Homo sapiens: one gene and its partner. The protein of the gene in region 1 interacts with the protein of each later gene in a biochemical or structural test. Each region holds a gene or a part of one and is shown on either strand. Other genes may lie near its edges.

Region 1 (3,817 bases):
TGATGAGATTACAGGCGTGAGCCACCATGCCTGGCCTAGATTTTATATTTTTCAAAAACTTATAAACCAAGAAAACACAAAAGTTGTTGGTTTTGGGAAATGTAATAGAGTTCAGATCTTTTCAGTGGCACAAGAAAATGTGGTAACAATAGGGTATCATATACCTTAGCATTTCTTTTCCCTTTCTACTAGTTTTGAAATGAAGTGGAAGAAAGAAAGAATAGAACCTTCTAGTTTATCTCATATTCCCAGTCAGGTATCTGTTTATATTTTACAGATTAATAAAATTGCTTTGCTTTGTTTATAAATAGATTTGGTGCCTATCCTAAAACTTCCAGTGGGTTTTCTTGCCTTCCAGTGGCCATATAAAGGGCGTCCTGAAAACAAAAGCTTCCTTTATGAGATAGTATCTAATAAAAGAAATGGCATTGATGTGGACAAATGGGATTATTTTGCCAGGTATGCACTGAACACTTCTGAAAAGTTGGCTAAAATATTTATATAAATTTAGTATTACTATTTAAGGTACAGCTTCCTTGTTGAAAAATTTCATCTCTCTGTTTTGGAATCCTTCTAGGGACTGCCATCATCTTGGAATCCAAAATAATTTTGATTACAAGCGCTTTATTAAGTTTGCCCGTGTCTGTGAAGTAGACAATGAGTTGCGTATTTGTGCTAGAGATAAGGTAAGCTGTGCCAGAGGAGGCAATAAGAAGAATGTTGTTCCTGGTCTGAAATTTGGAAATAACCATTTAACAATTTGGAATAATTGGTAAATCGTCAGTCTCTTTACTTAATTCCTAGGATTTGTAAATATCTTTAGTCTCTTCCCTTCTACTGCATTATTAAATAATAATAAAATTAACATGGACATTTATTAAGTTTTGAGTTAGACACTGGTTTTGGGGTTTTTTTGTTTGGTTGGTTGCATTTTTTTTTTTTGAAATAGGATCTCACTGTGTTGCCCAGGCTAGTCTTGAACTCCTGAGCTCAAGTGATCCTCCCTCCTCAGCCTCCCAAGTAGCTGGGACTACAGGTGCACACTATCATGCCTGGCTTGTATGAGGCATCATTTTAAGTGCTTTGGACGGATCAACTCATTCCGTATAACCCTGTGAGATAGATACTATTATTCCATTCAACAGGCAAGCAAATTAAGGCACAGAGAAGGCATATAATTAACAAGTGGTAGAGTTGGAATTTCAACCCAAAAAGTTTGGTTCCAGAGTCTCTCTCTTTTTTTTTTTGAGACGGAGTCTCGCTCAGTCACCCAGGCTGGAGTGCAGTGGCACGATCTCGGCTCACTGCAAGCTCCGCCTCCCGGGTTCACGCCATTCTCCTGCCTCAGCCTCCCTAGTAGCTGGGACTACAGGCACTCGCCACTATGCCCGGCTAATTTTTTTTGTATTTTTAGTAGAGACAGGGTTTCACCGTGTTAGCCAGGATGGTCTCAATCTCTTGACCTCGTGATCTGCCCGCCTCGGCCTCCCAAAGTGCTGGGATTACAGGCATGAGCCAAGGTGCCTGGCCCAGAGTCTCATTTTTAATCACTGTATTAGTGTTGAAAAATTTTATACAGTTGACACCTGAACAAAATGGTGTTTAGGGGTGCTGTCCCCTCTCCTAGTTGAAAATCTGTATAAAACTTTTCTTTACCTTTTTTTTTTTTTGGAGATGGAGTCTCCCACTGTTGCCTAGGCTGGGGTACAGTGGCATGATCTCGGCTCACTGCAAGCTCTGCCTCCTGGCTTCAAGTGATTTTTCTGCCTCAGCCTTGTGACTAGCTAGGTTTACAGATGCATGCTACCACGCCCAGCTAATTTTTGTCTTTTTAGTGGAAACAGGGTTTCACCATGTTGGCCAGGCTGGTCTCGAACTCCTCACCTCAAGTGATCCACCCGCTTCAGCCTCCCAAAGTGCTGGCATTATAGGTGTAAGCCACTGTACCTGGCCTGCATATAACTTTTGACTTCCCAAAAACTTAACTAAATAGCCTTCTGTTGACCAGAAGCCTTATTGATAACCTTAATGGTCAGTTACACACATTTTGTATGTTTTTTGTTTTCTTTCCAGACAGGGTCTTGCTGTGTTACTCAGGCTGGAGTACAGTGGCACTATCATAGTGCATTGTAGCCTTGACTTCCTGGGCTCAACTGATCCTTCCTCCTCTGCCTCCCGAGTAGCTGGGACTACAGGCCTATGCTTGGCTAATTCTGAAATTTATTTTACAGAGGTGGAGTTTCACTGTGTTGCCCAGGCTGGTCTCAAACTCCTGGGCTCAAGCAACCCATCCACCTCAGTCTCCTAAAGTGCTATGATTATAGGTGTGAGCCACTGCATCCAGCCTATTTTGAATGTTACGTGTATCATATACCATATTCTTTTTTTTCTTTTTGGATACAGGATCTTACTCTGTCACCCAGATTGGAGTGTAGTGGTGCGATCTCAGATCACTGCAACCTCCACCTTCCCAGCTCAAGCAAATCTCCCACTTCAGCTTCCCGAATAGCTGGGACCACAGGCGCATGCCACTATACCGGGCTAATTTTTCTATTTTTTTTTTTGTAGAGACAGGGTTTCGCTATGTTCCCCAGGCTGGTCTCGAACTTCTGACCTCAAGCAACTTGTCCTCCTTGGCCTCCCAAAGTGCTGGTATTACATGTGTGAGCCGCCACGCCCCATCTACTGTATTCTTACAATAAAGTAAGCTAGAGAAAAGAAAATGTTATTAAGAAAATCATAAGGCAAGGCCAGGCGTGGTGGCTCACACCTGTATTCCCAGCACTTTGGGAGGCCAAGGTGGGCAGATCACCTGAGGTTAGAAGTTCGAGACCAGCCTGGCCAACCTGGGCAACATGGTGAAACTCCGTCTCTACTCAAAATACAAAAATTAGCTGGGCGCAGTGGCGAGTGCCTGTAATCCCAGCTACTTGGGAGGCTGAGGCAGAAAAATAACTTGAACCCGGGAGGCGGAGGCTGTGGTAAGCCGAGATTGCGCCACTGCACTCCAGCCTGGGCGGCAGAGCAAGGCTCCACCTCAAAAAAAAAAAGAAAGAAAGAAATTCATAAGGCAGAGAAAGTATATTTACTATTCATTAAGTGGAAGTAGATCATCATAAAGGTCTTCATCCTCATCGTCTTCACATTAAGTAGGCTCAGGAACAGGAGGGATTGGTCTTACTGTCTCAGGGGTGGCAGCGGGGCAAGGAAATCTGTATAAGTGAACTCTCACAGTTCAAACATGTGTTGTTAAAGGTCAACTGTAGTTAAACAGCTGAAATCACTAGGTCCCTGTTAGATGGCAGTCATGTAATCAAAAAGTAGTATAGTACTATACTATAGAAAGTCAAGAAGGGCTAGGCGTGGTGGTACATATCTGTAATCCCACTACTTCGCAAGGCTGAGGTGGGCAAATCTCTTGGGCTACCGAGTTTGAGACCATCCTGGCCAACATAGTGAAACCCTGTCTCTACTGAAAATACAAAAATTAGCCAGGCGTGGTAGCATACACCTGTAATCCCAGCTACTCAGGAGGATGAGGTACGAGAATCGGTTGAACCTGGGAGGTGGAGGTTGCAGTGAGCCAAGATTGTGTGCCACTGCATTCCAACCTGGGTGACAGAGCGAGACTGTCTAAAAAAAAAAAAAAAAGTCAAGAATGAAGAACATAAGAATAGTAATACCTATTTCCTAGAGTTATTGGGAGGATTAAAATATATATATATTTAATTTAAGATGCCTAAAACGGAAACTGTCACAGAGTTTGAGCATGTGATAGATTTTAGGGTTTTTTTTTTTTTTCTTTGAGTTGGAGTCT
Region 2 (3,817 bases), on another chromosome or scaffold:
TGAGTACCTGGAATTACAGGTGTGCACCACCATGCCAGCTAATTTTTGTATTTTTAGTAGAAATGGGGTTTCACCATGTAGGCCATGCCGGTCTCAAACTCCTGACCTCAGGTGATCTGCCCACCTCAGCCACCCAAAGTGCTTGGATTACAAGCGTGAGCCACTACGTCCGGCCTGAAATATACAATAAAGTTTTATTCACTGTAGTCACCCTGTTGTTCTTTAGAATACTGTAACTTATTCCACCTAACCGTAATTTTGTACCCATTAACCAGTCTCTCCCTATTTCCCTCCACAACTCCCCCCACCCCCACCACCCTTTCCTGCCTCTGGTGACCACTATTCTACTTTCTACTTCTGCGAGATTAGTTTGTTGTTGTTGTTGTTGTTGTTTTGAGACGGAGTTTTGCTCTTGTCGCCCAGGCTGGAGTGCAGTGGCGCGATCTTGGCTCACTGCAACCTCTGCCTCCCAGGTTCAAGTGATTCTCCTGCCCCAGCCTCCCGAGTTGCTGAGATTACAGGTGCCTGCCACCACACCTGGCTAATTTTTGTATTTTTAATAGAGACGGGGTTTCACCATGTTGGCCAGGCTGGTCTCGAACTCCTGAACTTAGGTGATCCCCGCCGGCGCGCCCCCCCCCCCCCCCGCCATCCCAGCCTCCCAAAGTGCTGGGATTACAGGTGGGAACTACCGAGCCTGGACGAGATCAGTTTTTTTTTGTTTGTTTGTTTTGTTTTTTGAGATGGATTCTTGCTCTGTTGCCCAAGCTGGAGTGCAGTGGCACAATCTTGGCTCGCTGCAACTGGTGTCTCCCAGGTTCAAGCGATTCTCCAGCCTCAGCCTCCCAAGTAGCTGGGATTATAGCCGTGCACCACCACGCCTGGCTAATTTTTGTATTTTTAGTAGAGACAGGGTTTTACCATGTTGGCCAGTCTGGTCTCAAACTCCTGACTTCAGGCGATCTGCCTGCCTCGGCCTCCCAAAGTACTGGGATTACAGGCATGAGCCACTGTGCCTGGCATTTTTTTTTTTTTAATTTTTAATTTCTTTGGAGATAGGGTCTCAATCTGTCATCCAGGCTGAGTGCAGTGGTGCCATCATGGCTCACTGTAGCCTTGACCTCCTGGGCTCAAATGATCCTTCTGCCTCGGCCTCCTGAGTAGCTGGGACTACAGGTGTGCGTTGCCATGCCCGGCTAATTTTTGATTTTTTGTAGATAGGAGGTCTGTCTGTTGCCCAGGCTGGTCTCGAATTCCTGGACACAAGTGATCCTCCCACCTCAGCCTCTCAAAGTGCTGGGATTACAGGTGTCAGCCAACAGACTTTACCCAACTGAGATCAGTTTTTTATTAGCTCCCACGGATGAGTGAGAACATGTGGTATTTATCTCCCTGGGCCTGGCTTAATTCCCTTAATGTAATGCCCTCCAAGCTCATCCATGTTGCCACAGATGGCAGGATTTCATTCTTTTTTATGGCTGAATAAGAGTACATTGTGTCTGTGTACCACATTTTCTTTGTTCATTTGTTCATTGATGGACATTTAGGTTGATTACATATTTTGGCTATTGTGAATAGTGCTGCAGTAAACGTGAGGGTGCCCATATCTCTTTGATAAACTGATTTCCTTTCCTTTGGATAGATACCCAGTAGTGGGATTGCTGGATCATATGGTAGTTCTATTTATAGTTTTTCTTTTTTTTTTGAGACGGAGTCTTGCTCTGTCAACCAGGCTGGAGTGCAGTGGCATGATCTCAGCTCACTGCAACCTCCGCCTCCCGGGATCAAGCAGTTCTCCTGCTTCAGCCTCCAAGTAGCTGGGATTACAGGTACATGCCACCATACCCGGCTAATTTTTATGTTTTCAGCAGAGACGGGGTTTTACCATGTTGGTCAGGATGGTCTCGAATTCCTGACCTCAGGTGATCCGCCTGCCTCAGCCTCCCAACCTGCTGAAATTACAGGTGTGAGCCACTGCGCTAGCCTTGTTTGTAGTTTCTCAAGGAACCTCCATACTATTTTCCATAATGGCTGTGCTAATTTACATTCCCACCAATAGTGTATAGAGTTCCGCTTTCTCCACATCCTTGCCTTCATTTGTTACTTTTTGTCTTTCTGATAATAGCCATTTTAACTGTGGTGAGATGATATCTCATTGTGGTTTTGATTTGCATTTGTCTGATGATTAGTGATATTGAACATTTTATCATATACTTGTTGGCCATCTGTATGTCTGAGAAATTCCTGTTCAAATCATTTGCCCATTTGAAAAATTGGATTATTTATTTTTTTGCTGTTGAATTGTTTGAGTTCCTTGCATATTCTTGATATTAATCCCTTGTTGGATGGATAGTTTGCAAATAATTTCTCCCATTCCATAAGTTGTCTCCATAGGTTCCATAGGTTTATTCTGTTTTTTCTTTTGCTGTGCAGAAGCTTTTTAGTTTGATGTAATCTCATTTGTCTACTTTTGCCTCTGTTAACTGTACTTTTGAGGTCTTATCCATAAAATCTTTTCCCAGACCAATGCCCTGAAGCACTTCCCGTATGTTTTCTTGTTTTTTTTTTTTTGAGACAGTCTCACTCTCAGCTGAGACAGGTGCGATCTCGGGTCACTGCAGCCTCTATCTCCTGGGTTCAAGCGATTCTCCTGCCTCAGCCTCCTGAGTAGCTGGGATTACAGGCAGCGCCATCACACCCGGCTAATTTTTTTTTTTTTTTTTTTTTTTTGAGACGGGGTCTCGCTCTGTCGCCCAAGCTGGAGTGCAGTGGTGTGATCTCGGGTCACTGCAAGCTCCGCCTCCCGGGTTCATGCCATTCTCCTGCCTCAGCCTCCCAAGTAGCTGGGACTGCTGGCGCCTGCCACCACCCCCGACTAATTTTTTTTTTGTATTTTTAGTAGAGATGGGGTTTCACTGTGTTAGCCAGGACGGTCTCAATCTCCTGACCTTGTGATCCGCCTGCTCGGCCTCCCAAAGTGCTGGGATTACAGGCGTGAGCCACCGCACCCGGCCACGTGTGGCTAATTTTTTTTTTTTTTTTTTTTGCAACGGAGTCACGCTCTGTTGCCCAGGCTGGAGTGCAGTGGCTTGATCTCGGCTCACTGCAACCTCTGCCTCCTGTGTTCAAGCGATTCTCCTGTCTCAGCTTCCCAAGTAGCTGGGATTACAGGCACCTGCCACCATGCCTGGCTAGTTTTTATATTTTTAGTAGACACGGGGTTTCACCATGCTGGCCAGGCTGTTCTCAAGCTCTTGACCTCAAGTGATCTGCCCACCTTGGCCTCCCAAAGTGTTGGGATTACAGGCATGAGTCACTAACAGGCGCCTGGCCTGTTATTTATTTTTAAAAAGCCAAAAGCCAGCTTCCTCCTCCTGCCGGCTGAACCCCACACAGTCTGTCTGCACCTGCCTCTCCATCATTCCTCCCCTTGGCTGCCTCTGTTTTGAGCGCTGAGCCCTCTTGCCGGACAGGCCTCCCCCTCCTCCACATTCCTCCAGGACCAACTCTAGGCCATCTCCTCCTCATATGCGTCTGGGATGGCTTTGTTCTGTGGCAACTGGTTCTCCCGGTGAGTTCCTCTGGGCTGGTTCCTGTGCCGCCCTTCCTGTCTGCGTGTGGAGTAAGTCTTGTCAGGACCCTGCATTCCTGGTCAGCCAGGGCTGGGTCTGGCCTTTGGAGTTCCTTCAGTTCTCCTGTAGCAAGTGCCTGACGTTGTATATGTGCTAGGTGCCCCAAATCATCCACTCTGCCAGTCCACAAATATTTATCGAATGTCTATTATGTGTACATTGGTAATTAAAGCAGACCTTTGGAG

Evidence for each region.
Region 2: the proteins of SAMHD1 (region 1) and IKBKB form a complex in vitro, tested with the Homo sapiens proteins (one study listed by BioGRID).

What each region holds. Positions count from the first base shown.
Region 1 is NC_000020.11:36,913,591-36,917,407, reverse strand, and holds part of SAMHD1 (deoxynucleoside triphosphate triphosphohydrolase SAMHD1), read left to right. Parts: intron 1-358; coding exon 359-459; intron 460-577; coding exon 578-686; intron 687-3,817.
Region 2 is NC_000008.11:42,274,155-42,277,971, forward strand, and holds part of IKBKB (inhibitor of nuclear factor kappa-B kinase subunit beta), read left to right. Parts: intron 1-3,817.